Linked DNA regions of Homo sapiens: region 2 is linked to region 1. A link means that fine-mapping ties the variant in region 1 to the expression of a gene that starts in the linked region. Tissue or cell type: whole blood. Region 1 holds a variant in brackets; the other region holds the start of a gene. All regions are shown on one strand. Distances are from middle to middle.

Region 1 (16,562 bases):
TGGAAACAGGGTGCCCAGGGTAGTAGGGCAGGCAGGGACATTGTTTTTCAGGGCCTATGGCGGGCAAGTGGTGAAAGGGCTGGTGTTTGATGCAACAGACATGCCCCAGGAAAGAGAAAGCTATGAGCTGTGTTCTGTCTTTGGCAGCTGGGTTACATCACTTTAGGCCAATTTAATCCAACCAACATTCAGGCTAGTGGATGGGATAAGAAGAGACAGTTTTTATCTTCAAAGTGTTTGCATCTGAGGGCAAGAAATGGCAACAAATCCACCTACTATAAAGTAATGCAGAGAATGATGGTCACTGATGGCAAATTTCCCTGGAGTCCAAAGGAAGGGTCAGCAAACAATGGCCCACAGGCCAAATATGGCCACCACCTATTTGTTTGTTTGTTTGTTTGTTTAATAGACTTTATTTTTAGAGGAGTTTTAGGTTCACAGCAACACTGAGTGGGAGGTTTGGGCAGCACTGATTTTGCCGGGGAGACTGGGAGGACTGGTACTCTGGGGAGAGTCTCCTAGGTCCAGGGACCCCAGAGAATGCCTGCAGCGTGCGGAGGCCCCTTGAGCGGACGGAGGGAACAGCTGCTCCCCCTCCTGGGAGCCAGAGGAACATAAATAAATGGGAGATTTCCCATTTATTCCTTGCCCTGACACATGCACAGCCTCCCCCATTATCAACTTCACCCACCAATAGCCACATTTGTTACAGCTGATGATTGGCACATCATTATCACTCATGGAGTCTATAGTTTACATTCTGGATCATTCATGGTGTACATTCTATGGGTTTGGACAAATGTATACTGATGCGTATCCACCATTGTGGTTTCATCAGAGTGGTTTCACTGCCCTAAAAATCCTGTGTACTCTGCCTCTTCACCCCTTTCTCCCCCACCAACCCCTGGCAACCACTGATCTTTTTACTGTCTCCATAGTTTTGCCTTTTCTTGAGGGTCATGTAGCTGGAATCATACAGTATGTAGTCTTTTCACACTGGCTTCTTTATTTTGTAATATGCATTTATGTTTCCTCCGCGTCTTTTCATGGTTTGATAGCTCATTTCTTTTTAGTGCTAAATACTATTCCATTGTCTGGATAGACCAGTTTATTTATTCATTCACCTACTGAAGGGCATCTTGGTTGCTTCCAAGTGTTGGCAATTATGAATAAAGCTGCTCTAAACATCCATGTGCAGGTTTTTGTGTGGACATAATTTTTCAACGGTTTTGGGTAAATACCAAAGAGAGCAATTGCTGGATCATATGGCAAGAGTATGTTTAGTGTTGTAAGAAACGGCCAAGCTGTCTTCCAAAGTGGCTGTACCATGTTGCATTTCAACCAGCCATGAATGAGAGTTCCTGTTGCTCCACATCCCTGCCAGCATTTGGTGTTGTCAGTGGCCTGGATTACAGCCTGTTTGTTTTTGTAAATAAAGTTTTATTGGAATACAGCCATGCCCATTTGTTTATGTATTATCTATCACTGCTTTCATGCTACAACAGCAGAGTTGGCTGGTTATGACAGAGACAGAACAGCCATGAAAAAAAAGCCTAAACTATTTACCACCTGACTCTTTTCAGAAAAGGCCAATGCCTGGTCTATTGGAACAGCTATTTTCAATGGAGAAGCCGTGTAGGTGTTGGAGCGGCTCCTTGGAATGGAGAGAGTAGAAAGGGGAGCGATTCCAGACACAGGAAACAGACTGAGCAAGGATGGGGTGGCCTGGCCAGGTTGGGGAAATGCGGCGGTGTCAGAGACTCAGCTCTTTAGGCCTTTCCTCTGCTCTAAGCTGGAAGGAATTGAATCAATTTTTCCACAGCTTGTAGAAAAGACAGGATGAATGATGTCTGTAAATGCTTGAAGCAAGATATGAGAAAAGCATCCCTTCACCCAAAATGCTATTTCTATTTTATTGTTAAATGGATGCTAATTTTTCTGTCTTCCTTTTCTCTTCCCAGCCCAGTTTGCCAATTTCATCCTTCCTATTGTTTTGCCTTAACTAAACAAAACATACCAGACATACCAGCACAAACTGTAATGTGTTTACTTACAGAAACATATTTTCATTCTTTTTCAAATAGGTGGTTCACTCCTAGGTCCAAAATTCAAAAGGTTTAAAGAGCGTACGGAGAAACATTGCCCTCCTATTTTGTAGCCTTCCTGTTCTTCACCCTATAGGCAGCCAAAAGTACCAGTCTCTTGCATTGTATATCCTTCTAGAGATATTTTCTGCAGGTACAAATATTGGTGCAGATACTATTTTTCTTTCTTTTATCACAAATGATTATTTTATATGTGTATATATATATCCTATCTATATATCTCATATATATACGGGCACCATTTTGCAATTAGCTTTTTTCCTCTTAGTAACGGTTTTAGAAGTGTTTCACATTAATGCATCCAGAGCTTCCTCATTCTCTTTTTATTCCTTTCTAGTGCTTCATCCTGTAGATGTATCCTATTATGTTTAAGTGTTTTAGTGGCAAATCAGGGCTGTTGCTCTCTCCCCCTTTCTTGCCAGCAACAAGCCCTGGATAGTATTTATTGCTGGGTTCAGCATATGGGGTCAATAGCAGTGGCTGGGTTCATGATGCTGATGGCTTTGAAACAGCTCTTTTGTGGCCCTTCGCAGGTGAAGCGAGAGAGAGAAGAGAGCTAGATTCCAGCAATCCTGCTGGCAGGGTTCTTCTGCCTGCTTTGGCTGCTGGGGTGGGGTTTGGCTGCCTAGGTGCGATCGCCCTGTCCCTGTGATTTCCCTTCCTCAGGTTGCTGGTGGGAAAAGGACCTGTTGGAAGTTGAAGACATCAAGATTATTCTGATGTAGTGAGATCAGGGAGGCTCTATGGTGGTGGTGGCATTTGGCAGGTGTCTTAGCCATGGCTTTTTGATTGAAAGTTACAAACACCCATCTCCAGCTAGCTTAAGCAAAAAAGGAGAATTTATGGGTTTATGCAGGCAAACAAAGACATTTAGGACTTGAGCAGATACCACCAGTTACTTACACAATGTGTATTTCCTCTGTTGTCTCAGTATGCCAGTTAAAAATACTCAGCTGTTTGGACTTCCTTGCAGTGAGGGGTGGCCATGTGACACTTCTGAACACTGAGATGTAAGCAGAAGGATACAGGTTGGGTTTTCTGGGAATATATTATTTTTCTGATGAAAAGGGATACCCTCAATGGGCACATGCTTTCTGCCCTTCCAGTGTGGAATGTGGATATAACCCCAGAGATGTAGCAATCATTTTGGAGCATGAGGAGATTCATGTGATGGGGATGGCGGAGGAAAACGGTCTTTGATGTCATCATGAAGCCAGAGCAGCAGAGCTTGTCCACTGGCCTTTTAAACATCTGCTACCCAAGAAAAACAAACTCCTTTGGCTGAGCTCTGGAATTGGGCTTTTGCTGCTCACAGTGGAGCAGAGGCCTTGCCCTAATTCAGGGCAACTGAATTCTGGCATTTGTATAGTGTCAATTTTCTCCATCTCTTTCCAGTTTATTCTCTCAGAATCCTCCATGAGGCAAGGGACATGGCATCAGCAGCTCTGGTATCTATCTTGTCAGCTTCCAATCCAGGGGAAAGAGAAAGCTAGCTATTCCTTCAATTCCAAAATGGAGGGGAAAACTCCAGGGAAGACATCTGATTAGTCTGTCTTGAAGGATCTTCCTTGAACCAACCTCTGTGGATCAGAGGATGGGGTAATATGATCAACCACATTACCAGATCAGCCTACCTGGCAGATGGGGTAGGGAGCAGTTTCCTAAAGGAGGAGATGGAATATTTTACCAGGAGTGGGAATAGGCAGGCAGGCAGATGAAAACAACAGATGGTCCTTCAGCAGGCGCTGAAGGTTTAGATGAGTGGAGAGGAAAGGCAAGGTGATTTCAGGGGGATGGTCACCTCCTCCAAGAAGCCTTTTCGGACAGCCTGACTTAGCCACTTATCTCTCCACCCCATCCACTCTTGCTTCCCTCATGGTAGTACATGGCACTGTCTCTTCCTGGCAGCTTTGAAGGTGGGCACTTCTTCTGGTTGATCCTGTATCCCTTCCTCTCATTACTAGTATGTGGCAGCCACTCATTGTTTAGAGCAGTGAGTGAAGGGACAGGAGGAACAAAGACACTGAGGAAGAAAGTCACAAGAAAGACTTTGGTTTGCTTGGAATCTTGAGTGTATGATTAAAAACCTAGCAAATCCCAAGATTCTTAAGGTGGGTTAGGGTTAGATTAGAGTGGGACCCTGAATGTCAGGCTACGAAGTTTGTGTGATGGACAGTAGGGAGCCATTGAACTCTTTTGAGCAGGGGAGTGGCAAGGTCAGGGCTGCTGCACTCCTGTGCCTTGTTCCTTTGACCTCTGGCTGCTGTCTTTCTTTTCCATTCTCTGGCTTCTCCATGATTCTTCTTGGTCTGGTTCTTCATCTGTCTTGAACACCTTTAGTCCATGTTTCCCACCCCTGCTTTTTTTCTCCCCAAACTTCTTCACCAATCAGTTCTGGGCTGATTCTGTTCTGTGTGCCGGGGAGAGGACAGTTTACCCTGGCTGGTGCCAAGTGGGTGTCCTTCCCAGGAAGGTTCCAGTTGAGCAGCTCTTGGCTGCCCTCTTCTGGGCACTGGTGGATATAACCACCTGCTCTTCTGGAACTGGCTAGAAAGACTCCGGTCGCAACCTTGCCTCATGATGCGACTTCTGTCTTTTTGTATCTGCCCACCAGATCCCCTTTAATTACTTAAAATCAGTAAGTTTTTTTTGAGTGCCTACCAAGTGTTTAGATTTGTCTGGCGATAGCTACATATAGAATGCTTCCGACTTCCCACTGATCTAGATATTGTTCATCGTGGGATATAAGCCTTGCATAAATGTCAGAGCACTTCTTTTGCTAATTTACATGTCTGTCCTATTTATTTGACTGAACTGAGGTCACTTTAGTTTTGAAAGCCGTTGAAGAGGTAATGTGCTTGAACTTTATAAGTATGTAAGGCTTACATATTTATATTCCCCGGAGAGCATCTTCCCCCATAAATCACACCCTGATGCTTTCATCAAAGTACAGAAGTCTGTGCACATATTTTTATTATTCACAATGGAATTAAGGCAATGCCCTAATTAATGATTTTGCTAAGAGGCAATTGCTGTTTCCAGGGAACTCGGACCTGTAACATGGATTCGAAGCCATTCCTGGGGTTTTTTGAGCTCATAAAATGACAGATTCACATCCCAACAGGACATCTGACTGGATTCTTGGCCTCACTGTGGGTGATAAAAATACTTTATTCTGAACAAGTTGCTTTCCTCAGGCCAAAGGCTAATTGCTGTCCCGTTCTGGTGAGCAGGCTGTCACTCAAACGCCTAGGCTCTGAAACCTGTAATCTCTTCACGGTGCCAAGACGACATCTTCCTTTCCTGGATCCGCCTTTGGAATTCCCCTATTCCTCCATTCATTCAAATCCAGCCCATTTTTTCAAGACCTATTTCTAATCTCTTTTCTCTGAGATCCCTTCCCTGCATCCTGACTTTTCTTTGTTCTAAACAATAACACTTCTGTAGTCTGCGGCATCGACTTAGCAAAAGTCATGTATTATCTTGCAACATCTTTTACTTTTTAAATAAAACCTTATTTATACATTTTGTACTGTCATTTAACTTTACAAAAGTTTATGTTTCATGTCTTTAATTGGATCATAAAATCCATAATGCCAGAAACCATATCTTACACTTGGTTGTTTACCCCACAGAATGTTGAATATTTATTGCTATGTGTTCAATAGACGAGCAGCAAATGCTCTTGATTGGTGGGTTGTTGTATCATTTGCCTATCTTAGCTCTAATTAGTATACTTGCCTGAGAAATTATTTACAAAAGACAGATTGGCCTAGGCCATCATTAACACTTTCCTGGAATATTTTCATGCATTTAGATGCTTTGCAAAATGTATTGCCCAAATGGCTCCGTGTGTCTATGTGTGCACATGACAAAGAGAAGCCAAATTAAAATCATCCTTTTAATTTATCATTGATGCATGATTATTTTAAAATTTAGTTTTAATTTTGATTAACTTTATACACACACATGATTTTCAGGGTTAAATAATTTTAGAAGGCATAGTGAAAAATAATAGACTCTTCTCTTGACCCAGCATTTCCTGCTTCCTAGAATCAACACATTCAGCTCTTGCAGCTGGTTATTTTGGTAT[C/T]GCCTCCATGTCACTGGTATATGCTTATAGTGCTCCTTCTTTTTTGCCTAATGCTTTAAGCATTAACTGTTAGCCTCTCACTATTTTAGCCCTCTTTTACCATTTCTACCATGCCCCATCATGCACGGTTCCTGAACCCCCGGACCCCCATGCTCTCATTATCCCACTACTGTTATTTCATAATTTTGCTTAGGTTAATATTCAGTGTGTATATTTTCCTGTCCCTATAAATACTCTTCACAGCTGAAATGTGCTTACTTTTATTTTCTTGCACAATCTTTAGGTTTTCCTGGAGTTAATAGTTATATTGTTTTTTCTTCCTTTGTTTTGTTTTCTATCACTAATTCACTCCAAACTTTCTCCTCGGTTGTTTAAATTTCCTCTCAATACACTCACTCACATCCGGTATTCTAACAAAGCCATCTTTCGATCATCTTTCCTGTACCCTACAGAGCTGCTCCAGCCTGGACTAGTTTATTTCTAGGCTGAGTACATGGCTATACTTGGATCTCCCTTTGCCTTTATCTCTGGGATTTCCTTTGCTCTTTCTTGGATTGACGTTCTCATTTCCCAGACTCCATGTCTTCCTCTTTCTTGCTTTGCCTCATAATTTTGGACTTACCTAGTAGCTTCTTCTTCTTTTTTTTTTTTTTCCTTTTTCACATCAGATGGGAAATGTGCCAACGTCACAACAAGGTTTGAGGGAGGCACATCTCATGCTCGGACATGAACACCCGATCATCATGCTTATGAACTACAAAAGGATCTCCAGTATGGGCTCACGGCAGGTAATTGTTTTGAGACTTATGTCTGAAATGTTTGTATCCCACCCAAATATTTAATTGTTAACTTTGATAGGTGTAGAATTCTAGGCTAGAAATAATTTTTTTCTACAGAATTCTAAAGTCATTGTTACATTATCTTTTTGCTTCTACTGGGGCTGTTGAGAAATTCACAGTCATTTTGGTATTTTGAGCAATGATTTTTACCTTTTTCTGAAAAGTTTTAAAATTCCCTCTTTTATGTCTATTGTTCTGAAAGTTTAAGATGATGGAACTTAGTGTGAGTTTATTTTTATCTATTGTACTGAATATTTACTGTACCTTTTAAGTCTAGAAACTCATGCCCTTCAGTACTGATAAATTTCTTGGATTATTTCTTGTGTCTTTTTTCTTCTATTTTTCAAGTTCTTTTTCTGAAATTTTAGTTACTCAGTTGATGAACTCCTAGAATGATTTTCTATATTTCTTATCTTTTATATCATATCTTCCATCTTTTTGATTTTTCATTCTACTTTCTAAGAGATTTCCCTAAATTTATCTTCTAACTATTTGACTGAAATTTTCATTCTGGCTGTCAAATTTGAATTTATAATTACTATCTTGTTTTACAATTGTTTTCCTTTTGCCAGAATATTGTTTTTATTTAATAAATTACAATAACTTCTCCTATTTGTCTGAGGATGTTGATGATAGTTTCCTTTTGAAGTTTTTATTTTCCTGCAGAGTTTTCTATAAGTTGCTTTTTTTTCCCCCATAATATTTTGGCCTTTACAGTTGGCCCTTGAATAACATGAATTTGAACTGCCTGAGTCTGCTAATATGTGGATTATCTTCTGCTTCTGCACCCTGAGACAGCAAGACCAACCCTTCCTCTTGCTTCTTTTCCTTAGCCTATTCAACGTGAAGATGACTAAGGTAAGGACCTTTGTGACGATCCACTTCCACTCAATAAAAAATACATATTTTTTTCCTCCTTATGATTTTCTTCATAAGATTTTCTTTTCTCTAGCTTACTTTATTGTAAGAATACAATATATAATACATATATGATAAAAAAGTGTTTAGTGATTGTTTATGTTATTGGTAAGTCTTCCAGTCAAGAGTAGGCTATTAGTAGTTAAGTTTTTGGAGAGTCAATTGTATTTTTCAAGTTAGGGAATTTCCTCAGAGTTTTGGTGGTCATTGACTAAGGCTCACATTTTGAAATGAGACGCTTAAAAGCAAATTAGAAACTCAGTGTGTGGGGGTGGAACTTGTTAACTCTGAACTCACTACTTGTAAGGTGATTTGGCCAATCTGCTTCTCCAGGGGTATTCTGTTGTTAGTGCTGCTATATCTTTTCTTGGAGTAGATAGACTTCCTAGAGAGGTGTGCTTCAGTCTCTGGCAAGCAGAGTGTTAAGTCTGGCTTCTTATGCTCTGAGAGCTAAGGTCCTCATACTCAGTGTGTAACCTCTCACTCAATCTTCCTGTGTTCAGTACACTGTCCCTGCCCTCAACAATGCTGTATATGCCCCACTATGCTTTATTCTTTCCAGGAATTAAGCCTTCAGTTGTCTGGGTTGGGGAAGGGGCAGGATGAGGGGCCTGGGGAGGGTCTATCTACTTCTTAAACATACTTCCAGCCAGTCATTGTGTCAACAGACTCAACTTCCCACCTATGTCCAGTGGTACCCTGGGATTCTGCAGTGAAAATCGGGCTTGTTCTTATTGTTAGCTTGGGGTTCAACTTCCTTAGGTCTGTTAAGTGAGTTATCACTGGTTCATCTGCTTCCTAGAGCCCCAGATTTTATTTGTTTATGTTCTTTCTGGTTATCTTTTTCATTGAGGTTTAATGCTTAAAAAAAATTTTCCAGCCGGGCACAGTGGCTCACACCTGTAATCCCAGCACTTTGGGAGGCCAAGGAGGGTGCATCACCTGAAGTCAGGAGTTCGAGAACAGCCTGGTCAACATAGGGAAACCCCATCTCTTCTAAAAATACAAAAATTAGCTAGGCATGATGGCGGGTGCCTGTAATCTCCGCTACTTGAGAAGCTGAGGCGGGAGAATCGCTTGAACCCAGGAGGTGGAGGTTGCAGTGAGCTGAGATCAGGCCAGTGCCCTCCAGCCTGGGTGACAGAGTGAGACTCCATCTCAAAAAAAAAAAAAATTCCTTTGCTGTAATATTTATTGGAATTTCTGGGAGGGAGCAGAAATAATGTTTATGTTCCATCCACCACTTTTAAGTGGAAGTCTATAATATCCTCTTACAGCATTGAACGATTTTATGGTGAGGGTGAGAAGATGTTTTAGCATGTGGCTCAAAGGAAATGGGAACAGCTTTTTCGGAATTGATAATAGATGTAGGAAGTTGGCATGGCTGCCTATCATTCTCTTAGATTAAAGCAGAGATCCTAGGGAAGAATTAGTGAGAAGGATGTCTTTTGAAAGCTTGACCAAAGTTTGGATTCCATTTCATACTTAGAGAAAGAGAATGAGGGATATCTGTATTTAGGAAGTACTGCACTGGTGATTTTGTGGAGACTCTATGCCAAGAACCCAGTTCATATTTCTAGGAGAGGTTGAAAACCGTAGGTCATCAATTCCTAGGCAGGTAGCAGTGCCAGGGCCCCTACAAACTTAACTGTAGTCAGGTTTTGACTTTTACATTGCAACCAACACCCACAGATCATTGATCTCTTTTTCAGGGGGTGGGGTGGGGTAGGGCCTGTAGCCATGGGGTTTATTATGTTAGAATTTGGACTGATGCTTTTGGGTGTAATGAATTGTGACTTGCTGAAATGGTTAGGGAAAAGGTTTATATAAAAGTCTCCTAATTAGCACCACAATGCTGGAAAAGGAGAAGAACAAAATTATATCAAGAGACCATGGACCATTAAAACAATTTTGTTGAAATTCACAACTGCTCTGAACTACTGCTACCACGACCACCACCACCGCTACTACTTATAATGGCAATTATTTATTAAGCACCTGTGAGGCTTCCAGCACCATTCTAAGTAATGGGCATACCTTCCCTCATCTGATTCACATACAAAAATGTATGAAGTATCATTTGCACAGGCAGTCAATAGTTAAGTGAATAACAATAACTAACACTTATTACAAGATTACTATATCCCACTCAATCTTCAAAGTTCTTCATATGCATGACTCATTACAGCCTCATAATAGCTTTACGAAATCAGTTCTTCATACTCACTATTTAATGGATAAAGAATCTGAGCCTCAGAAGGTTAAGGAACTTCTCCAAGGTCAGCTGTGGCAGATTTGGAGATAACCCAGGTTTGTATTACTCTTCCTATTCTACAAATAAGAGGAAGTGCCTGGATTCAAGAGGAGAAAAGCATATACCACATTTTGGGGAAATGGTAATAGAAAAATGAGGTAAAGTCCATCGGAGACACAGTTTTCTCTCTCAGAGTTTGGCCAAAAATTTGCCTGGTGTCTGAAATAGGCTAATGTATCAATAATCCTATGTAATATTTCCATAGTTCTTTGTTGTTTGGAAGGCATACTTGCAGTCGCAATCTGCTTTGGTCCTCACGATAACCCAGGAAAGTAGAAAATTCAGGGACTGCTGTCTCCATTTCACAGACAAGGAAACTGAACTCAAAAATTAAAATAATTTGCCCATATTCGCACAGACAGTAAGTGTGAAAATCTCAGGCATCATTTCTTCATTCATTCATTCAAAACAAATATAATTTTTTGAAGTCTACCATGTACCTGGCAGTGTTAAGAGTTCTGTGAATTTTAATAGTAAGTAAGAAAAAGTTCCTGTCCTTGTGAAATTTATGTTCTAGAAGGAGAGACGAACAACAAATAAAAAAAAATTGTAAAATATATTAATTGGTAGTGATAGGTGCTATTAAGTAAAATAAAGCTGAGGAAGGAGGTAGCAGGTGGCCAGGTGGGAAGAGGGAATGGACTATTTTAAACCAGATATGCAGGAAATCTTCTCAGATGGGCAACATTTGAGCAGGTGTCTGCTGGAAGCGAGGGAGTCAGCCATGCAAGTATCTGGAGGACAAACATCCCAGTCAGAGGGTTCAGCAAATGCAAGATCCCTGATGTTGGAATGAGGTTGGTATATTCAAGAAACAGAGAGAAAGCCAGTGTGGACTTCTCCATGTCAGAAAAGAGAGAGAGGAAGGAAATAAGAGATGTGGTCAGAGTGGTGAGCTAGAACTGAGCCATAAAGGGGTTTATAGACAAGATGAGAAAACTGGATCTTATTCTAAGTTAAGTGGAAGTCTTTGGAGGACTTGGAGTGGGGAAATGACATGATCTAATTTACCCTTGCAAAATATCCCTCTGAATACTATGTCGAGAATTTACTGGGTGGATGTTAGGGAGGGCGGTGACATGGAAGTAAAAAGCCAAGTGGGTAGGTGTATTCATTGGGATGGGCTGAGTAATTCCAAAGGAACAATGTTCCATGTTTTGCAGGTCTGTTCCACATTATCTTCACTCTAGGACCCAAGCTGATAAAGCAGCTCCCTCTGGAGCTATTGATGGTCTCATGGAAGAGACAAAAAAAGATCACAGTGAATCACATTCTGCTTCTGAACTCTTCTGCCTGGAAGTGACAAACATCATTTCCATCACATTTCACTGACCAAAGCAAGTCATGAGTGTAAGCCTAGTATCAGTGGGGTGGGGAAGGAGAAGCAAATTATTGGAAACCACAGGAGGTTATTGCAATAATAAGGCAAAAATGAAGCCAGTGGCTGGGTGCAGTGGCTCATGCCTGTAATCTTAGCACTTTGGGAGGCCAAGGCAGGTGGATCACTTGAGCTTAGGAGTTCAAGACCAGCCTGGGCAACATGGTGAAACCCTGTCTCTACAAAAAATAAAAAAAAAATTAGCCAGGCATGGTGGCATACACCTGTAGTCCCAGCTACTTGCGGGGCTGAGGCAGGAGCATCACTTGAACCCAGGAGCTCAAGGCTGCAGTGAGCTGTGATCTTACCACTGCACTCTAGCCTGGGTGACAGAGTAAGACCTTGTCTCAATAAAAAATAATGAAGCTGGCTTGGTCTAGAGTGGAAACAGTTGAGGTGGTAAAAGGACTTGCTGCTTGAATAAATGTGGGGTATGAGAAACGGAAGAGTTAAGACGGACTCCAGGGTTTTGGTCTGAACACCTTGGTGAAGGATTTGTACCACTTGCTGAGTTGTAGAAGTCTGAGGGAGGTGCAGGGTTAAGGGGAAAAATTAGGAATTCCATTTTGGACATTTCTAATAAGGGAAACAATGGATTTAAAGATAAAATGTGGGAGTCCTCAGCATGTAGACTGACTTTGAAGCCATGGACTGGATGAGATCACATGGAGAATGAGAGCAGAGAGAGGAAACAAGAAGGCTGAAAGTGAGCCTGGGGTCTGTCAGTCTATATAGGTCAGGAGGAAGAGGGGAATCCAGAGAGGGAGAGATGGAAGAGACAGATTGGGAAGAGGGGAAAAAAGAATGTGGGACTGCCTAGAAACCCAGTAAAAAAAAAGTGTTTCATGAAAAGAAGGATCAACAGTGTCAGTTGCTGCTATTAAGTAAGATGAGGATTAAAATCCATTGTTGGACTTGGTCAGATGCAGGCACTAGTGACCTTGACAGGCCATTGGTGACTTTGTTACATGGTGGGGGTAAAAGTCTGATTGAAATGGGTTGAGAAGAGCCCGAATGTTCTTCTGATTCCAAAGTCAATGCCTACCTTGTTTTGCTAAGCTGCATAGAAAGTTCTCGTGTGCAGGATGCAGTCACTGAAAATGTTGTAGAACTGAAGAATTTGTACCTCATTCTTGGAACCACTCAACCTGGAAGAACAACTCCCTACAAACGTGAAGGCAACTACCTGAGCATAACTGGTTCACTGCCTTTTCTTCTGGGAGTGTGTTGAGTAAAATTTGAACAGAAATATCTGTTTTTCCATCCAGGCTCTAGGCAAAGTCTCCTTCAATGATGGGGCATGGTACAAATTTGTTAGCTCCCTTAACTATGAAGACACAAGAAAAGGTTGGAAATTAGGATTAGGAAAAATAGAAGCTTATTGTTTACTGCCCAGCTTCAAGTACGGGAAATAAAACCTTTTTCCAAGAGCAATACATTGGATTAAATGAAGTAATTTTACTTCAGAATGATACTCCAAGGGGCTTTCCCAAGTAGTAAAACAGACAGCAAAAGCTCTGAAATAAAGTGAGAGAAAGGTGGGAAATGGAAAAGAAAATAAACATGCATCTATTACTGGGTGCATTTTTGTTTGGCCTGTAGGGCATTCCTGCTGACAGCCATTTCTGGCTGTGTATGAGATATGCCATGGAGACATGGGAGGACCAGATGGCACTTCTGAGCCTCACCCTCAGGTACTGATTGTATCCAAAATAAGCCAGGTTGGTAAGGCCAGGAAAACAAGACTTGGGGGATATTTTCTATAAACTGGAAAGACTTCCAACATCTTTCAAAGATGGTTATGGTTCTTGTCTCATAATCCTGTGCTCCCAGGCAATCGCAGTATTCCAAATATTTAATAACAAGTAAAGAAAAGGGCTTGAGTAATTGGAAGGAACTCCAGATCAATCAGAATAGAGGCTGACTGTATCCAAAATTTTAGCTAAATACTAGGCTTATTCCCTATGTCTAGTGAAAAGAGCATGGGTTCTACAGTTGGTAAAGGTTGAGTTCAATCTTGAATGCCTCTTAGAATCCTTTATTGCTCTGTGATTTGCTGAGCCTCATTTTCATCATATCTAAATGGAGGGAATACTATATCCTTGTACTATTTTGAAGATAAAATGAAATGTGTTTCAGTTGTCTATTGCTACTATATAACAAATCATCCAGAAAGCAACAATGATTCACCATTGCTTATGATTCAGTGGGTCAAGAATGCAGGCAGGTCTCAGCTGGGCAGTTCTTCTGTTCTGCTTGGTATACGCTAGGAGTCACTCATCCAGCTGTATCCATCTGGCAGCTTGGCTGGGCTGAAAGGTTCAGGAAGACCTCACACACATGTCTCACACCTCACTTCTCCTTTACATGGCATTTCTCCCAACATGGTATCACATCATTCAGGAATCTGAGCTGCTTTATAGCAAGCTGCCTGATATCTTCAAGTTTCACTCCAGAAATGGCACTGTGTCATTTCTGTCATACTGTACAGGACAAGGCAAGTCACAAGGCTAGGCAAGGTCCAAGGGGAATGGAAAGGGATCCTACGTCTTGATAGGTAGAGCATCATATGTGTACAGGGAGGGAAGGAATCACTGGTGACCATTGTTGGAAACTATCTACCCAAAATAAACCTTTGTGGCTCCAAATATTTTCAGACTAGCATCCAAATTCTTTGGCTTGGCATTCAAGGCCTATGATTATCTAGTCCCTGCCAGCTTCTCCAAGCCTCTTTTCTCAGTGCTCCCTTCCTTGAAGTTTCCACTGTAATCAAATAAACCTCTTGCCATAATTCATTCCAGCTTTGTGTCTTTACATATCTACTATCTCCAAATAAAATCCCCTTCCTTCATACACCTCTCTCTAACTCCGGCTTATATGTAAAAATTCTCCTCAGTGGTGCCTCCTCTGAGAGGTCTTCCTGACTCTGCTTCTGCCTCACTTCTGTGCACTAACTTCACTTAAGCAAAGGCTTCATCTCTTCATATTGATTCTTTCTTTCTTTCTTTCTTTCTTTCTTTCTTTCTTTCTTTCTTTCTTTCTTTCTTTCTTTTACTTTTCTTTCTTCCTTTTCTTTTCTTTTTTTTTTTTTGAGACAGAGTCTCTTTCTATTGCCCAGGCTGGAGTGCAGTGGCATGATCTTGGCTCACTGCAACCTCTGCCTCCTGGGTTCAAGCCATTCTTGTGCCTCAGCCTCCTAAGTAGCTGGGATTAGAGGCATGTGCCACCACACCTAGCTAATTTTTGTATTTTTTTTTTATTATACTTTAAGTTTTAGGGTACATGTGCACATTGTGCAGGTTAGTTACATATGTATACATGTGCCATGCTGCTGCGCTGCACCCACTAACTCGTCATCTAGCATTAGGTATATCTCCCAATGCTATCCCTCCCCGCTCCCCCCACCCCACCACAGTCCCCAGAGTGTGATATTCCCCTTCCTGTGTCCATGTGATCTCATTGTTCAGTTCCCACCTATGAGTGAGAATATGCAGTGTTTGGTTTTTTGATCTTGCGGCATTATTCACAATAGCAAAGACTTGGAACCAACCCAAATGTCCAACAATGATAGACTGGATTAAGAAAATGTGGCACATATACACCATGGAATACTATGTAGCCATAAAAAATGATGAGTTCATGTCCTTTGTAGGGACATGGATGAAATTGGAAATCATCATTCTAATTTTTGTATTTTTAGTAGAGATGAGGTTTTGCCATGTTGGCCAGGGTGGTCTCAAACTCCCAGCCTTAGGTGATCCACCTGCCTCAGTTTCCCAAAGTGCTGAGATTTGGTGTGAGCCACCATGCCTGGCTGTTTAATTCATTTTTAAATGAGTTTCTCCCACCATTTATTTATTTCACATGAACAGTTGGCTGGGATGGGGTGGAAGAAAAAAATGGCTGGAGTTAAGGAGCCAAGGAATTGAAAAACAGGTGTGTTGGCTGTGTCATTTATGTGATTTTAAACTCACTGGGAATGATAAGGGGGGTTGTGAAGTGGTGGACCAGCAGCCAGGCACCGAAGTCATCAGTGAATTATGAAGAGGGGCATGAGAAGATGAGAAGATGAGAGGAAGTGATGATAAAACTGGGTAAAGTAGACTTCAAAGGAGGTGAGGGTTTTGTTTGCTTTTGTTTTTGATGGAGCAAGGAGGAAAAATAGGTTGGAAGAAACAATGAGGAGCAAAGAGGACACCTGCCTGTATTAGTTTATTCTCTCATTGCTCTAAAGAAATATCTGAGACTGTGTAATTTATAAAGAAAAGAGGTTTAAGTGGCTCACAGTTCTGCAGGCTGTACGGGAAGCATGATGCTGACATCTGCTCAGCTTCTAGGGAGGCCTCAGGGAGCTTTTACTCATGGTGGAAGGTGAAGCAGGAGCAGGCACATGAGATGACCAGAGCAGGAGCATAAGAGTGAGGGGGGAGGTGCCACACACTTTAAAATGACCAGATCTCCTGAGAATCCACTCACTATCACAAGGGCAGTGTCAAAGGGAGGGTGCTAACCCATTCATGAGAAACCCACCTCCATGATCCAATCACCTCCCACCAGGTCCCATCTCCAACATTGGGGATAGCATTTCAATATGGGATTTGGGTGGGAACAACACCCAAAGTGTATCACTGCCCCACCTCCATACCCCAAGGCTTAAGGGTTAGGGGAGAAAAATAATAATTTCTGCTTGAGAAGACTGTGGGACCATCAGGAACTGGCTCGATTTTAGTTAGTGGAGGAAGGTGACTGGAATGTTCAGAGAAGAGGTTGAGGAGGAAGGGGAGTTTGCCGGTGAAAGCATGAGTTCCAGAGGGCTCTGTGGAAAGGTTCTGAGGGGAGATGAGGGATGGGAGATGGTTTAATTAGCAGATGCACCAGCAGTATGAAAATAAGTGTCCATATGATGATGGAGGCA
Region 2 (16,562 bases), 25 kb before region 1:
CACAATTCTCAGGAAAATATAAAATGATACCATGTCAAAGATTTTATTTAACTCAATAACCAATGAGAGAACCAATAAGAAGTTTAAACTTATTCAAAGAGCATTAGAGAATTTAGATATATGCAGGCAATTTAACAACAAAAAAATAAGGCGAGTATGATAGGCTAAATAATGTTCCCTCTGGAAAAAAATCAATCCTGATCCCTGGAATTTCTGAATATGTTACTTATGTTACTTTATAAATAGAAAGGACTTTACAGATGTGATTAAATTATGGGTTTTGAGATGGGGAGATTATTCTGGATTATCTGGGTAGGTCCAATGTAATCACATGCATTCTTATAGGAGGGAGACAGGAGTGTCAGCTGAGAGAGAAGACATAAGAACGAAAGCGGAGGTTGGAGTGATGTGCTTTGAAGACGGAGGAAGAGGCCATAAGCCAAGGAATGTAGGTTATCCCTAGAAGCTGGAAAAGACAAGAAAACAAATCCTTTTCTAGAGCCTCCAGAAGAAAAGGGCTCTGCTTACACCTTGATTTTAGCCCAGTGAAACAGATTTTGAACTTCTGACATCTAGTACTGTAAGATAATACATTTGCATGATTTTTACACCCTAAAATGTGTTACATTGTTATATCAGCAGTAGAAATTTAATACCAAAAGATTACTGGGTGAGATAGAAAGCTAGTTAATGTCCAACAGGGCTATCAACTATAACCCTTGGAGCTAATTCTTCTACCAGAGTTAAATTATTTGCTTCTCTGCGGGACCAAAATTTACAAGTAAACCTCTGCCGTTATGGAGATGAAAATTGACTAGTCAGTAGAAATCCCAGTTCTGCACTGGCAGATCACTCAATAATCTCTTCTGCACGTTTCCAAGTTTAGAATACTCTTTTGGACAGTTAGGAAGTCGAAGCACTGAGATTTGAACCAGGCTCTTCTAAGTCCAGAATCTGTGCTCTTAATCACTAAGGAACATATTTTTTTATTAGCATTATTTCATAGACTAGCAGGACAATCAGTGGCAAAAAAAATTGTCCATGGAAACTGAGAACACAGCTTAAAGATTGCCAGGTTTGGGCGTGGTGGCTCACACCTTTAATTCCAGTGTTTTGGGAGGCTGAGGCGGGAGGATTGCTTGAGGCTAGGAGTTCAAGAGCAGCCTGGGCAACAGGGTGAGACCTCCATCTTTACAACAAAAAAAAAATAGCCAAGTGTGATGGTGTGGACCTGTGGTCCTAGCTACTCAGGAGGTGGAGGTGGGAGGATTTTGTGAGCCCAAGTGTTCAAGGTTATAGTGAGCTATGGTTGCACTCTAGCCTGGGTGACAGAGAAAGACCCTGTCTCTAAAGAAAAATAAAAAAAAAAAGAGTGCCAGTTTGATTCACCAACTCCTTCATGGTGCTTCCCCCAAACAGAGGACCACAGAAAGAACCTTCTCCCTCCATAACATGGAAATTCCTACACTAGCTCTCTGAAAACTTAGAGCCAAGCTTTCAGTAGGTGGTTCCTGGTTGGAGTAACTTGAAGGCTGGGGTGGGAAACTAAAATACACCTCCCCACAACTGTTCCCTTCCCTGCTCAAGAGTAAATGGTCTTGACAAGCCCTTCTTTAAAACTGTGTTACTTGGTTAGACATCAAAACACTTTGCCTAGTAAATGCTTGAAAAAGGTTTGCATTGCATTTGGTTTGGTGGAAGGGCAAAGTAGACTTTGGGAGTGAGAAAAGTCAGGAGGGACAAATGAGTGAGTTGTATCAGGAACTAGCATGGCATTCTTAAGAGTCATGCGGGCTGGGTGCAGTGGCTCACGCCTGTAATCCCAGCATTTTGGGAAGCCGAGGTGGGCAGATCACGAGGTCAAGAGATAGAGACCATCCTGGCCAACATGGTGAAACCCCGTCTCTACTAAAAATACAAAAATTAGCCAGGTGTGGTGGCACATGCCTGTAATCCCAGCTACTCAGGAGGCTGAGGCAGGAGAATCGCTTGAACCCAGGAAGCGGAGCTTGCAGTGAGCCGAGATTGTGCCATTGCACTACAGTCTGGGCGACAGAGTGAGATTCTGTCTCAAAAAAAAAAAAAGAGTCATGGGTTGAAGCGTCCCACTGCAGTTGGGAACCTTTATGGGAAAGTGGGGTCTCTGATTAGACAGGTGGAATGTGGCCAGAGTCTTGAATGGGGGCTGGGCAGTGTAGGTTTACCTTATAGGGCAATCATTCTTGAAGCCGAACATTAGAATAAACTGGCAAGAGTTAAGAAATATGAATGCAACCCTGTATTCATCTACTGAGGCTGCCATAACAAAATACCACAGAATCGGTGACTTAAGCAACAGAAATTAATTTTCTAACAATGCTGGAGGCTAGAGATCAAAGTGTTGGCAGTGTTGGTTTCTCCTGAGGCCTCTTTCCTTGATTTGTAGATGGCCATCCTCTCCCTGTGTCTTCAGATGGTCTTTCCTTTGTTACTGTCCATGTCTGAATATTCTTTTCTTATAAGCCTTCCCCTATTGCCCCAATTCTTCCCATTAGGAACCTCACCAGCACCACAGGACCCACCACCACCATCACAAGCCTTATCATCACCCCTGCCTTCTCTATCCCTGCAGCAGTCCGGGGATAGACACAGGGAGAGGACAGCCATCTTACCAGCCGAGGAAGGAAGCCTCAGAGAAACCAACACTGCCAACACTCGGATCTCTGGCCTCCAGGATTGTGACCGCACCCACCACAGTTATCACAGGGGCAGCTATAATGGCAGCAGCTGCAGCAGCAGTGAGCCCCATGCCAATAGAGAGACATAGGCAGTCACACCCATTGTAGAACTGATCACTTAGGCCAAGTTATTAATTTTGTACTGGAGGAAACTGAAGTCCAGAGAGGTCAACTGACTTATTCAAGCCTATGGAGCTCTTAAATAGAAAACTAAGTCCAAAGATCCTATTTTTTGGCCTCACATTTTCTTTCTTTCTACTGGTCCACATGACTTCATCCCAGCCCATCAGCCCTGGAGGCTGGGCTAAGGACAGCCCCACTATTTGAGCCTGCTCTTCCTTCCTATCAGGAGCAAACCATCATGAAAATCAGCCCCATTAAACTCTGATTGTCTGTGTCTGGGCCATGTGTTTCCCTTGTCAAGGGGTTGAAATGCTTTGATTTAAGGGTAGGCAGGATACTTCTTTTAATGTTTTTAGTTAGGACTTGGTCAGCAAACAGGAACAAACCTGATCAAATGTGGCATAAGCAAACTGCAAACTCGGCTCATGTAACAAGACCAAGGCAGCCCTGGCTGCAGGCATAGCAAGATTCAGGGCTCACATGATGCAATCACGTGTCTCTCCTTTCTGCTTGCTTTGCAATCTGTTGACTCCAGTCTCAGACTCCATTTGGTAGCGAGATGGCAGCTTCAGTTTGTGAATTCTCTGGTGCAGCAGGAAAGAGGTAGCCTGTTTCTCAATAACATAAACGAAAGTCATGGAATTAATTAATGCAAAAATATTTATTGAGGTCCTAGTATGCACCAGACATTCTTCTACATGCTCGGGATACTGAAGTGGACAGAGAGAAGAGGTTCCTGTCATCATGGAGCTTACTTGAGTCTTCTTGGGCTCTGACATGACTGTTTTTGGCCATGTGTAATCTGTGAGCCAATCACTGTAGCCACGAGTACGCGATGTGCTGGGTCATGTGCCCCACTTAAAGAATGCAAGCCTCAGGCCAGGCGTGGTGGCTCACGCCTGTAATCCCAGCATTTTGGGAAGCCGAGGTAGGCGGATTGCCTGAGGTCAGGAGTTTGAGACCAGACTGGCCAACATGGTGAAACCCTGTCTCTACTAAAAATACAAACATTAGCCAGGCATGGTGCTGGGTGCCTGTGATCCCAGCTACTCAGGAGGCTGAGGCAGAAGAATCGCTTGAATCCAGGAGGCGGATGTTGCAGTGAACCAAGACGATGCCACTGCGCTTCAGCCTGGGCATTCTTTCAAAAACAGAATGCAGGTCTCTTTTTGAGTGCCAGGACTATGTCATAGTTATGTTTGTGATGTGTCCACAAAGCATAACCCAAGGGCTGTCCATAATAAGCACATGAGAAGTGACATCAAACGAGTGAACAACTGAGTAAATAAACCACAGAGAGAGAAAGTTCATGAAAGGCAAATGTGTAAAAACACACGAAAAGGGGACAAATCCAAGTAAATCGAACAACGAAATGCTAGCTCTCAGTTGCCAATCCAAAAAGAGACATAATATTCACTATAGATGTCTTGCTAAAAATATTTGCCCAGTGTGTTTCATATCAGGCCAAGAAAATCCTGCTCATTATTCAGAGAAACATTAGACACAAAATCTGAAGTTGCAGTTCATTTCAGAGTTGTCCCTGGGGGGTGTCAACAAACCGGGGTCACTCTGGACCTCACACTTTGAGGAGCAAGTGAAAGAAGAAATGAAGACAGCTCACAGCTGGCAGCTAAAATATGTCGATGTCATTATGTAAATATCTGCCACCCACAGCCCTCCATGGTCTCTCTTGCAGCCTGCTGTGGGCACCTGGGAAACACTTCTCCCTGTTGTCTGGTGTTCTTGGACATAGCCTCTTAGTTCCTTTGATGTTCTGCCCTTGATGTTCATTTTATGCAGCTTTCAACTGGTAAAAAAGTTTAAGGCAAGGAAAAAGTCTGGAAGAAAATTTATAGCTCCTAAATTGTTAACATGTAAAAGAGCCATTCGTTGGTCCTAAATCCTAAAAGCGTGGCTCTGTATATCTTGTATAAAACCTATGTGGGTTGGCACTTGGAGGGATGTATGCAATTTTAGTCATTACACTGCTTAAGGAAGGACCTATAAAGGACACGTAGAAAGAGGCAAACTAAATTATTAAGAGGAACCTACATTTGAGCATGAGCTCAAAGGAGGTGGACTCCAGCATGGAGAGACCAAAGCTCTAAGAAGAAATAAGTACATGCTATGAATTCATGAAGGGCATAGAAAAGATGCCTGTAAACAAACTTATTCACCAAATTTCAATAGAATCAAATAAGAGGGGCAACCATGGGGTTTCAAAAGGGTCAAAATTGTACAAATATTAAGTGTAAGTGGCTTTAAACGATGGTGGCAAACATGAAATTTAAACTAATTTTTATGTTTTAGAGACACAGTCTTGGACTTAATAAAAAGAGCTTTAAAAGGTATATTGGGGACAATTGGTAAAATTTACAGGTAAGTCACATATTAAATGGCACCATTTAACCGAATAAATGTTAGCTTTCTTAGGTATGATGGTGGTGTGCTTATTTAGGAGAATGTCCATATTCATTCAAGATGCACGGTGAAATGTTGGGGGAAACATGGCTGGATTTTGCAGCTGACTTTCAAATGAATTAGAAAAAACATCTATAAATATATGAGAGAATGACAGAGCAATTGTAGCACAATACAGTCATGTGCTGCATAATGACATTTCAGTTAACAATGGATTGCCTATCTCGACGGTGGTCTCATAAGATTATAATGGAGCAGAAAAGTTTCTATTGTCCAGTATTATGCTATGCTATGCTATGCTATGCTATGCTATGCTATGCTATGCTATGCTATACCATACCATACTATACTATACTATACTTTATTTATTTATTTATTTTTTGGAGACAAAATTTCGCTCTTGTTGCCCAGGCACGATTCTGGCTCACTGCAACCTTCAACTCCCCGGTTCAAGCGATTCTTCTGCCTCAGCTTCCAGAGTAGCTGAGATTATAGGCGTGCACCACCACACCCAGCTAATTTTTGTGTTTTTAGTAGAGACGGGGTTTCACCATGTTGGCCAGGCTTGTCTCGTTTATCTATTTATTTTTGAGACAGGGTCTTTCTCTGTTGCCCAGTCTGGAGTGCAGTGGCATGATCGTGACTCACTGTAACCTCAAACTCCTGGGCTCAAGGAATCCTCCCGTCTCAGCCTCCCAAGTAGCTGGGACTTCAGGTGTGTACCATCACACTTGGCTAATTAAAATGATTTTTTTTTTGTACAGACAGGGGTCTTACTATGTTGCTAGGCTCATCTTGAACTCCAGGCCTCAAATAATCCTCCCACCTCAGCTTCTCAGAGTCCTAGAATTAGCACTCTGAGTACCTAGCATGGAATTTATTACCTTTAGAAGTAGCACTGTTTGAAAATATAAAGTCCTTTAAGAATTTGGATATGTTCATGAGTGATGGGTCAAGAGTGATGGGTCAGATATGTTCGTGAGTGATGGGTCAGAGACTTGAAGATGCTTTTGATACTGCCCTACCCACAGAGAACAATCACACCCACCCTTGACGCATCTATTGGAGACCGAGTGTTAGACAAGAGTCCAGATGGCTCACAGGCAGGTCTAGGACAGGTCTCAGCAATGTTTTGAGAATAAAACAAGGAAGATCTGCTGAATGTTTAAGTTTTTTTTTTTTGAGAGGGATAGCCTTTAATATCATAAATGGATAATTAAGGGAATAAATGAAGGAATGAGTAGATGATAATGAGTAGGAGGCTTTTGGTAACTTTTTTTTTTTTTTTTTTTGAGACGGAGTCTCGCTCTGTCGCCAGGCTGGAGTGCAGTGGCGTGATCTCGGCTCACTGCAACCTCCACCTCCCGGGTTCAAGCGATTCTCCTGCCTCAGCCTCCTGAGTAGCTGGGACTACAGGCACGTGCCACCACACCCAGCTAATTTTTGTATTTTTGGTAGAAACGGGGTTTCACCATGTTGGCCCGGATGGTCTCTATCTCTTGACCTTGTGATCTGCCCATCTTGGCCTCCCAAAGTGCTGGGATTACAGGCGTGAGCCACTGCGTCCGGCTGTAACTTTTTATTTTTAAATAGTTATAGACTCACAGAAAGAGGCCATAAGTACAGGGTCACATATACCCTCCCCTCAGCCTCCCCGAGCAGTGACATCTTATAAAGCTGTGGTAAAATAGCAAAACCAGGGAGTTGGCACTGGTAGTGTTGAACTATACTGCAGATTTTATTCTGTTCTCAGCATTTTTTAAGCTTGCATTTGTGTGTATGTAATGTTATCCCATGTATAGATTCATGTAACCACCATCCCAATCAAGATACAGAACTGTTCCATCACAGTAAAAGAATTCCATTCAGGCCGGGCGCGGTGGCTCATGCCTAAAATCCCAGCACTTTGGGAGGCCGAGGTGGGTGGACCATTTGAGGTCAGGAGTTTGAGACCAGCTTGGCTAACATGGTGAGACCCCGTCTCTACTAAAAATACAAAAATTAGCCAGGTGTGGTGGCACACACCTGTAAATCCCAGCTACTCCAGAGACTGAGGTAGGAGAATTGCCTGAACTGGGGAGGCAGAAGTTGCAGTGAGCCTAGACTATGCCACCACACTCCAGCATGGGTGACAGAGTGAGACTGTGTCTTAAAAAAAAAAAAAAAAAGAATTCCATTCTATCTGTTTGTATTCCTCCCCCCTCATCCTCCTGCTCCCTGGCAACCACTAATCTGTGCTCTTTCTGTCATCGTTTCGAGAATGTTGGATAAGTGGAAACAGATCCGAAAGGTATGTAACCTTCTGAGACTGGCTTTTTTCACTAAGCATAATGCCTGAGGTCCATCCAGGTTGTTGCATGTACCAAGAGTTCATTTGCTTTTGTTGCTAAGTAGTATTCCATTGTATGGAGGTACCACAGTTTGTTCCATCCTTTGCCTATTGGACATTTGCTTTTTTTTCCCTCGAGTATTTTGCCATTATGAATACAGCCACTACGAATATTTATATGCAGGTTTTTGTGTAAATATAAGTTTTGATTTCTCTGGGATAAATGCCAGGAGTATGACCGTTGGGTCATATGGTAAGTGTTTAATTTTGTAAGAAACTGCCAAACTGTTTTCCATGGTGGCTGTACCATTTTACATGTCCACAGGCAATGTATAAGAGATCTAGTTTCTCTGCATCCTTACCAGCATTTGATATTATCACTATTTAAAATTTTAGCTATTCTAAGTGGTGTGTAGGCATATATTTTTGTGGTTTTAATTTGCAGTTTCCTAATGACTAATGATATTGAACAACTTTTCTTGCTTATTTGCCATCTGCCTATCCTTTTTGGTGAAATATCAGTTCATGTCTTTCAGCCATGTTTAATTTTTTTTTACTGTTGAGTTTTGAAAGTTCTTTATATATTCTAGAAGATGCAAAATGTTTGTCAGATATTGGCTTGCAAATATTTTCTCCCAGTCTGCAGGTTGTCTTTTCACCCTCTAAACAGAGTCTTTCACAGCATGAAACAAATGGAGGCTTTAAATGGCCATTTCAGAAAAGCCTGACCTAGCCTTGAGAGCGTCGGACACGGTCACTCCACCGGTTCCCACTCACGAGGGCAGATCATGGGTTTAAATCCCATTTGGGTGTGCTAATTCAGCTTCACAATAGCTCACCCACCATGGGCTTAACGCTATTCAGTGGCCACAGGTGAGTGTGTTTCAGGACATCACAAAAAGATAAGCTGAGAAAGAGTGGCCCACCGCTGCCAGAACAGCTTGAGGGCAAGTCCCCACTGACCCGGAAAGTGAGTCAGTTGCATCACCCCCTTAGAAACCTGGAAAATGCTTCATCATCGGTGTAGAGCGAGAGCCAGCATTCAAAACGCCAGGGGGCTTATCAGGCCATTTCACCACAACATAAAGTAACAGGCAGACTTGAATTCATCTGGCACTGTTGACCAACACAGAGAGCCAAAACACACACGGAATTCAAAATCAGAAATAATCCCAAGTTTGAGTCATCCAATGTGCTTGTCTACATTGATTGCACTCACCAGATAAAAGTCCAATGCACTCTGTGGGGTGAAACAGCCTCTGTCTCAGGTTGGGAGTTGCTGCCATGGAGACCACAAGAGTGGAGATTTTCTGACACACAGAAAGGAATGGATTACAGCTCCTTCTTATGTAAATTTCCATGGAGGGGAAAAAAGATTAAAAGGAAAATAATTCTGCTTTAGTCGTTTTCCTTTAAGGTGATAAGATCCTTTGATTCCATCGTGGAGAAGAAGGCAACAGCTGTTTGTCACAAATGGTAAGACATTTTATTTGACATTTTGCAGAAACTCGATCTTTAGCTGTAATTTTGACCTAATGGTTACAGTGAGTTGTTTTTAAGAGAAAGATAGATTTTCTTGAAGCCAATGGGCCTCAGACATGAAGAATGAAGAACTAATTGTACTAACCTCAGTTTCTGAAGTGGACAGGGAAATCTTACCTTCCTGCCTCTCTATGTTCAGGCTGAGTGGGTCAGAAGGAGAGTGTATTAGGTAAGAAAATTTATCAGTATTATTTAGTGAACACTGGATTTATCCTTTTGCATTCTGGCTGTAGTACCCAACTTCCACATGGCAATGCACCCTCACCTCAGCCCTCCGCCCACGTGGTCCCCTTGCTGAGCACTTTAATGAATGACTGCATCTCATTTTCACAGCTATTTGATGCACCTGCTATTATTACTCTTATTACCATTTTCCAGTGGGAAGCTGCTTCTTGGGCAGGGTGGATTTCCATCTGCGTCTCCTTTTCGGTGTTGAAAGCTGGTAAGTGAGGACACCAGGATTGGAACCTGGGTAGTCTGAGTCCAGAATCTCTATTTTCAAGTCTTCCTGCTCTCTGCTTCTGGCAAGTTTGATGTCCACTTTTGATCTTCACCTACATTCCAGCATAATAGCTACTTTTGGTTGTTTTCTCAGCAGCACAAGAGAAGTGTGGCGAGATTTTTAGGTGAGTCATCTAGAGAAGTTAATCTTATTTTGGGAATTCTACTGGCAGCTTCAGGTGGGGAAAATTTTGTTATTTTCTATCCTCCTCTAGGTTCTAAAAGGGAAGAAAGATGGTGAGCGTAGAAAGATGTGACTGTATTCACTATTCACCCTTTGTCGGGTGGTGAGTAAGCAGCTTGCAAAAGCAATGAAGTTTGGAACAATCCAGAGAACCAAACTTTCAGCTGCCAGAGATGGCACCTGGTATCCTGGGTACATCTGCCTGTAGGGCCCAGAAAGAGCTGGAAGCCAAGTGCATGGATCAGGTCTGTAGGAAGGTGGGAGAGCCAGGAATCGAGTGTCAGGGGGCATTTATTACCCATGGAAGCAGGTTTTTGTCAATTTTGTTCACTGCTGGATCACTAACACCTGGACTGGTGCCTGGCCAGGTGGTGGCTTCATAATCATTTGTTGAGTGAATCAATGAATGAATGAATGAACAGCTGTAGCAGATGCTAGCAGGGCTTCCTATTTCTTCCATCACCATAAAGGTGAAAGACATCATAAACGGGAATTTAGACAATCCTCAGAAATTTTCAACTGCCATGTATCTTGACTTGATGCTTCTAGTAGTTATATTTATTTGTAATTCAATCTTTCTTTTTAAATAGTTGACCAAGTGTGGTGGCTCACGTAGTCCCAGCACTTTGGGAGGCTGAGGCAGGAGGATCACTTGAGCCCAGGAATTTGAGACCAGCTTGGGCAACATAGTGAGACCTCATCTCTTAAAAAAAAAAATTAGCTGGGTGTGGTAGTGCACACCTGTGGTCCCAGCTACTTTAGAGGCTGAGGTAGAGGATTGCTTGAGCCTGGGAAGTTGGGGCTGTAGTGAGCTTTGATTGCATCACTGCACTCCAGCCTGGGTGACAGAGCAAGACCCTGTCTCTAAAAAATTAAATAAATAATAAAAAAATTAAAAAGTAACTCCCTTTTCTTTATTTTCAGGCTTCCTTCCCACCTGCTAATTCAAACACTTTACAACCAAAAATATCTTACCTTGATCCTGTTTCTTTCTCTATAACCTCTCTATTTCTGTTTCTTTCAACCAAATTTCTTAGGTCATCTATAATTTTGTTTCTACTTTTTCTATGCATGCCTCAATCCATTGCCAACTCCTCAACCTGCCCCAAGTGCCCACAACTCCACCAAAAGTAATTCTAACATTTTACCAATCCAATACATCACAGTTTTTTATAAAAAACTTAAGAAATATACTTTAGTTGAATTTGAAAGAGTTGCCCACTTGTGTTAAATATTTCTTTCCTTGTGTCTGGGATATCATTTGATTCTGATTCTATTCCTAATTCTCTGACCACCCTTTCTTCGTAGATTTCTCTTCCTTTGTTCAGCCTTTCACATCCTTGGAGTTCCATCCTCTGGTGATTGTTTGTCCTGTTCCATACATTCTCCTTATATGAGCATTGTGTTTTAGCTTATGAATGGTCACATGACCTAGCCAGGCCAATCAGAGTCTTCCATGAGACTTTTGTTTATTTATTTATTTATTAATTTATTTATTCTTCCACATGCCATCTCATTTAACCTGGGACTTTTGTCAGAATTATCAGGAAAGACATTCTTCTTTCTTGGCAACAGTTGACTTTTAGGATCACAGTAGTCTGGGGCTGCCAGGGACCATGTTCTCCATTAGCAGAGAGCCTGGCTGAGAACAAAGTCAAAACATGGGAAAGCAGGATGGAGAGACATATTGTCATCATGTTACCCCTGGATCTAGCCATATTTGAGGCTTAAACTTATCCTGGACTCTAAAGTTATGGAACTAACATATCTTTTTAAATAATTTAAGCAGGTTTGAGTAAGATTTCTGACACTTGCAACCAACAGTCCTGAAAAAGATACCTCTACTCAGTCTTCCTATTTCCAATCTCATAACTCCAACCCGATGCTGCCAGAAGGAATGATATGAGATACAGAACAGGTAGTGCCATTGCTCTGTGTAAGATCTTTCAATGGCTCTCCGGAGCCTATTCAGGAGCGTGAACTCAAAAGCCTTAAGGGAGCAGGCTGATGGCATAACTGAGGGAAACAGTCCAGGTGTAAGATAATAGAAAGGGGGAGACCAAGTGTTCAGCCCTGGAGTATGCCCTGCCTCCAGTCATTCATACTCAGAATGCAAACCCCAAGTGCCTGCCAATCAGAACATGTCTGGAGGTTGGATTTGGCCTCCAGCCTCCAAGTTTGCAAGCTTTGGCTTATGTTGCAAGTTTAAGCTCCGGTAGACAGCCCTGGAGGCCTTTGTGACCAGGCCTCTGACACTTCACAATATTCGTTTCCTGTCATTAGATGCTGTAGTGACACTAAGTTGGTGCCCACATCGTGTTCTGTTACAGTCCTATGCTTTTGCTCATGTTGGCCCTTTACCTGGGACCTTGGCCCACTCCATCCTTTCTATCATGATCTTCATCTCACTAAATCCTATTTGTTCTTTAATATTCATCTCAGGTGTCACCAGCTCCAGGAAGTGTCCTCTTGATGAGACAGGTGCCCCTCCTCCATGCTCTCATGGCCTGCTTTATGCCTCTCTGTCATTGCCCCTGACATATACGGCAGACCATGTTGATTACTCACCTACAACCATTCCTCCTCCTGCTTACTTGCTGGCAGAATTTGCCTCTCTCAACCGAAGCTGAAAACACCTGATATTCTCTTTCCCAACCTGCCTTATAGCTAAAGTCTGGGGATGTAATTTAATTCTTCTCAAAGAGATAAGATGGGAAATCTGCCAAGGAATTCTTGGGGAAGTTTCCTCCATGACTACAAAGGAGTGATCTTTTTCATGTCTGCCATTAGACGTAGTTTTGTGAGGATGTGATGGTTGGAGCTACAGCAGCCACCTTGAAGCTATGAGGGGAAAGCCAAGAGAATCATAGAGGTGGTGAACTGGATCCCTGCCATTCCTGAACTGCCGAACCAACCTGGGAACATTCTCCCCCAGATTTTTGGATATGTGAGATATAGTAATAACCCCTGATGCCTAAGTCACATTTTGTGTGTGTGTGTGGGCGGGGAGAGGGGGCGGTATTCTCTTACTTGCAGGCAAACACATTCTAAATGATTCAGCATTCAGCAATGTTCACATTGCCTGTGCACTTTCTCTTCTATTATTCTGTAAGTTATTTGTGGGGATAGATGATCTTATAATCTCTGGTCTAGCATAGAGTCAGAAGTCAGTAAATGTTCACGGAAATACTTTTTTTTTGCATAATTTTTCCACTGAGAGCTCCAGTAAAGGGTGAGTGCCAGATAACATCTGTCCCATTTTGGAGATAGCCCCTGAGTGTTGGGGAGTGGAAAATATGTCAGGCAATGTTATATGACTAACACCCCAGGATTTATGGGAATGAAGAATCTGATACAAGTATTACATCATCTCAGTGGAATCGACTAGTGCTACTCAAATTGTTTACTCAGACTTTTCTTTATGTGAAAGCTTACTACCAAGCCCAGCGTGTATGTCAGATAAAAGTGTGGTGCATTGGTTAGAGAACGCAAGGGATGATGAGGTGCTTACAGTCCCCCTCATCCATGCTGGGCCTGTCTCCTTTCTTGGTGTGATCCTTGCAGCCCCTTTTCTGACCTCCTCCCCTGGGTCAGACAATTAATGCTGCTTTTATGATCTTGAATCCATCAAACCCCTTGGTCTTCCCTTGGTCCTCAGCTCTTTTATTAAAAGTTGGAGGTCACCATTAGCCTTTTGGAGGTCTTGAGATTCCAATTTTGTTGGGATATTTAGAGCACTGCACCAGTTTTGGCTAAAAATGGTGCAGCAAATCAAAAAGGCAAAGCCATTTTGAAGAATCTATTTGGCAGTCCCAGTCCTTCAAGTATATACATTTAATTTTATGGTTTGTTACACAAATTTGTTGAATTTTTCATACCAAAGGAAGCCTTTGTATTTTGGAAAGCTCTGTAAACTAAGAGCAGACATTCTTATATGGCATTTGGGCTCTTTTGTTCTTTTTTTTTTTTGAGACAGGGTCTTGCTCTGTCATCCAGGGTAGAGTGCAGTGGTGCTAACATGGCTCACTGCAGCCTTCACCTCCTGGCTCAAGCGGTCCTCCCACCTCAGCCTCCAGAGTAGCTGGGACTACAGGTGTGCACCACCACACCCAGCTAATTAAAAAAAAATTTTTTTTGGAGATGGGGGGTGGGTCTCACTCTGTTGCTCAGGCTGGTCTCAAATTCTTAGCTTCTCCCACCTTGGCCTCCCCAAATGCTGGGATTACAGGCATGAGTCACTGCGCCTGACCTCTTTTGTTCTTAATAAAGGGGAAAAAAATCACTTGAGTTTCCAATATTGACTCACAGAGAAGACATTCCTCTTTCACGTTTCTACACACTTGTTAACATAAGTCTGAGTCTTCTCAGATCTTCTGACTCTGAAATTTAGGTAGTGGAATCAGATCTTCACATGATCTAGATCTCAGAGTTTGAAAGAACAGTGCTCTCAGGGTGGAGGGTTTGTGCGGGGCGGGGTGAAGGATGTTATGGGGATAGCATCACACCTAGATCACTAATGATCACATGCAAGAGAAGGCCAGTCTCTCTCTGTCTCTGTCTCTGTTTTCTAAAGAGGAGGAGATTATATTGTATTTTCAGTTTTTCATGGCCACTGGCTTCCCTTTAGCTTCAGGAAAGTAAATTTTAGTCTCTCAGCCTGGATGAATTGCAACCCTGACCAACCAACAACCTGATATACTCAAGCTCTTGGCTGAATTGCCCTCACTTTTGTGAATCCTGTCTCTTCCCCGAGGCAGCGGCGTTCCTGAAGCTGTCTCAACCGCAGTCTGTTCTTTCTCCAAGATGTTTCCCAAGATGAAAAGATGCTGTCGTTTTTCTTTTTGATTAACAATACAACTCTGAGATCTTTACACTATTTTCTTCATGTTATAACTCCTTTGCAGCCCATAAAACATCCCTCTACCTGCCCATTCATCCAACAGATATTTGCTTTTTATTTGCCAGATATTGTTCTAGGAGCTGAGGATACTGTAGGGAACAAGCCAGGCACACCCCTGTCAGCATGGAGTTTACATTTTAGCTTGGGGACAATAACAAACAAATAAATACTAAATATAATGTCAGATAGTGAAAGCACTATAAAGGAAAATTTTGGTGGCCATGAGAATGAGCCTCTGGGATCTCATGGTGCAGAGTGTGAAAGTGACTGAGAACCTCGGCAGCTGCATTTGGGAATGCACCACTGTGTTTGCACTGGGACTGCTTCCCCTCAATGTCCCAGTGTGGCAGGGACACTGAGGCAGACTTGGGATTTCTTGATGGGAAACTTTGGCTTGAGTACTCTCTGAAGGGCTTGCTGGAATTTTTGTAGAAGTGTATTCTAGTCTGAAATCCTTCCTCTCTCCCACCCTCCTTTCCTTCCCTCTCTCCTTCACTTACAGGCAGATCTTCACTGCAGTTTGACAGCTCTCCCAACCAGTCCCAGTTCACTCCCTTCATTTTCTCATATGTGTTTCCTCTAATAAAAGTTTACATTTTTCTTTTTTTTTTTTTGAGATGGAGTTTCACTCTGCCACCCAGGCTGGAGTGCAGTGTCATGATCTCGGTTCACTGAAGCCTCTGCCTCCTGGGTTCAAGAGATTCTCCTGCCTCAGCCTCCCAAGTAGCTGGGACTACAGGCACCTGCCACCATGCCTGGCTAATTTTTTGTGTTTTTAATAGAGACAGGGTTTCACCATGTTGACCAGGCTGGTCTCGAACTCCTGATGTCAGGTGATCTGCCCGCCTTGGCCTCCCAAAGTGCTGAGATTACAGGTGTGAGCCACTGCACCCAGCAAGGTTTACATTTCTTATTCCATTCTCAAGCTGACACAAGACTAATGCAGCCTGCAAGAATAGAGAGTGATGTGGAGTGGGGGCTACTTTAGATAAGTGGCCAGGGAAGGTGACATTGTCTAGAGACTTGATTGGAATGAGGAAATGATCAGAGCAAACCCCTGGGGGAGGAGCGTTTAAGTAGAGGGAAGAAGGAAGAGCATTCATCCACTCAGAGACTTGGGTTTCTGTGGGTTCCCTTCAAAACTGCTGAGGGGCGGCAGTGGGGCTGGGTCCCCTCCAAACTTGCTCCCACCATCTCCCTTCCATTTGGAGGGCTCTGTCTTTAACCGCTTTGCATATTTGGCTTTACCTAAGATTTCATGTGAACAAAGAGTTCCAGGTTTAAAATAAAAACACTCTGGAAATCACTGCCCTGGAGGCACTCTGCGACCTCTGCCCTGTTTTATGACTCTGTCAGTTCACTGGCCATGCAGAGAATGGGCAGTGGAAGAAATTACCTCTATTTGGAAGCCTCATTGTTCCACCGAGATACTGGATTAGTGTGAGGCAGGTGTAGATAAGGGGAATTACAGTAACTGATTAAAGGACTTGATGCATGGACTCTGGTAGAGAGGGTGGGGCAGGATCATTTGGGGGCTTTCACGCTAAGCTCAGAAGCCCTGCAGTTGGACAGCAGCCAGAGGAACTGGCATATATCAAATAGACAGAAATGGACAAAGGATGGCTGTGAGCACTAAGGTTTGGGAGGGAGTGGGAGGTAAAGGGTAGCCTTCCGTGTGAACCGGAGAGGAGTTTCCAGAGGCAGTGGAGGATAACAGCTGTGCTCAAGGACTTTGGTTTCAAAGTGCAAAACATTAATATTGCCCAGAAGAAAAATGATAGAATTCACCTGTTACTGGTGATTGGTAATCGAATGTATAAAAATTTCCTGGCACTTCGTTAGTGA

The links. PIP is the estimated chance that this variant, and not a neighbour inherited with it, causes the effect.
Region 2: it holds the start of LINC01151, and the variant in region 1 is fine-mapped to the expression of LINC01151 in whole blood (TOPMed, PIP 0.99).

Annotation. Positions count from the first base shown.
Region 1 is chr8:122,661,693-122,678,254 of GRCh38, reverse strand. It overlaps LINC01151 (long intergenic non-protein coding RNA 1151), which reads left to right. Exons shown (of 4, transcript NR_126348.1): 3 at 6,867-6,986; 4 at 7,755-7,870. It overlaps LOC124902081 (small nucleolar RNA U13), which reads right to left and starts at 6,964; the gene lies at 6,861-6,964. RefSeq lists a silencer at 471-765. The variant C/T (reference allele first, on the strand shown) is at 6,199.
Region 2 is chr8:122,686,385-122,702,946 of GRCh38, reverse strand. LINC01151 (long intergenic non-protein coding RNA 1151) reads left to right here and starts at 8,841. Exons shown (of 4, transcript NR_126348.1): 1 at 8,841-9,066; 2 at 9,466-9,574. It overlaps LOC107986904 (a long non-coding RNA gene), which reads left to right. Exons shown (of 3, transcript XR_001745738.3): 2 at 1-448; 3 at 2,535-3,114. RefSeq lists enhancers at 8,025-8,525, 8,346-9,545, 12,175-13,374.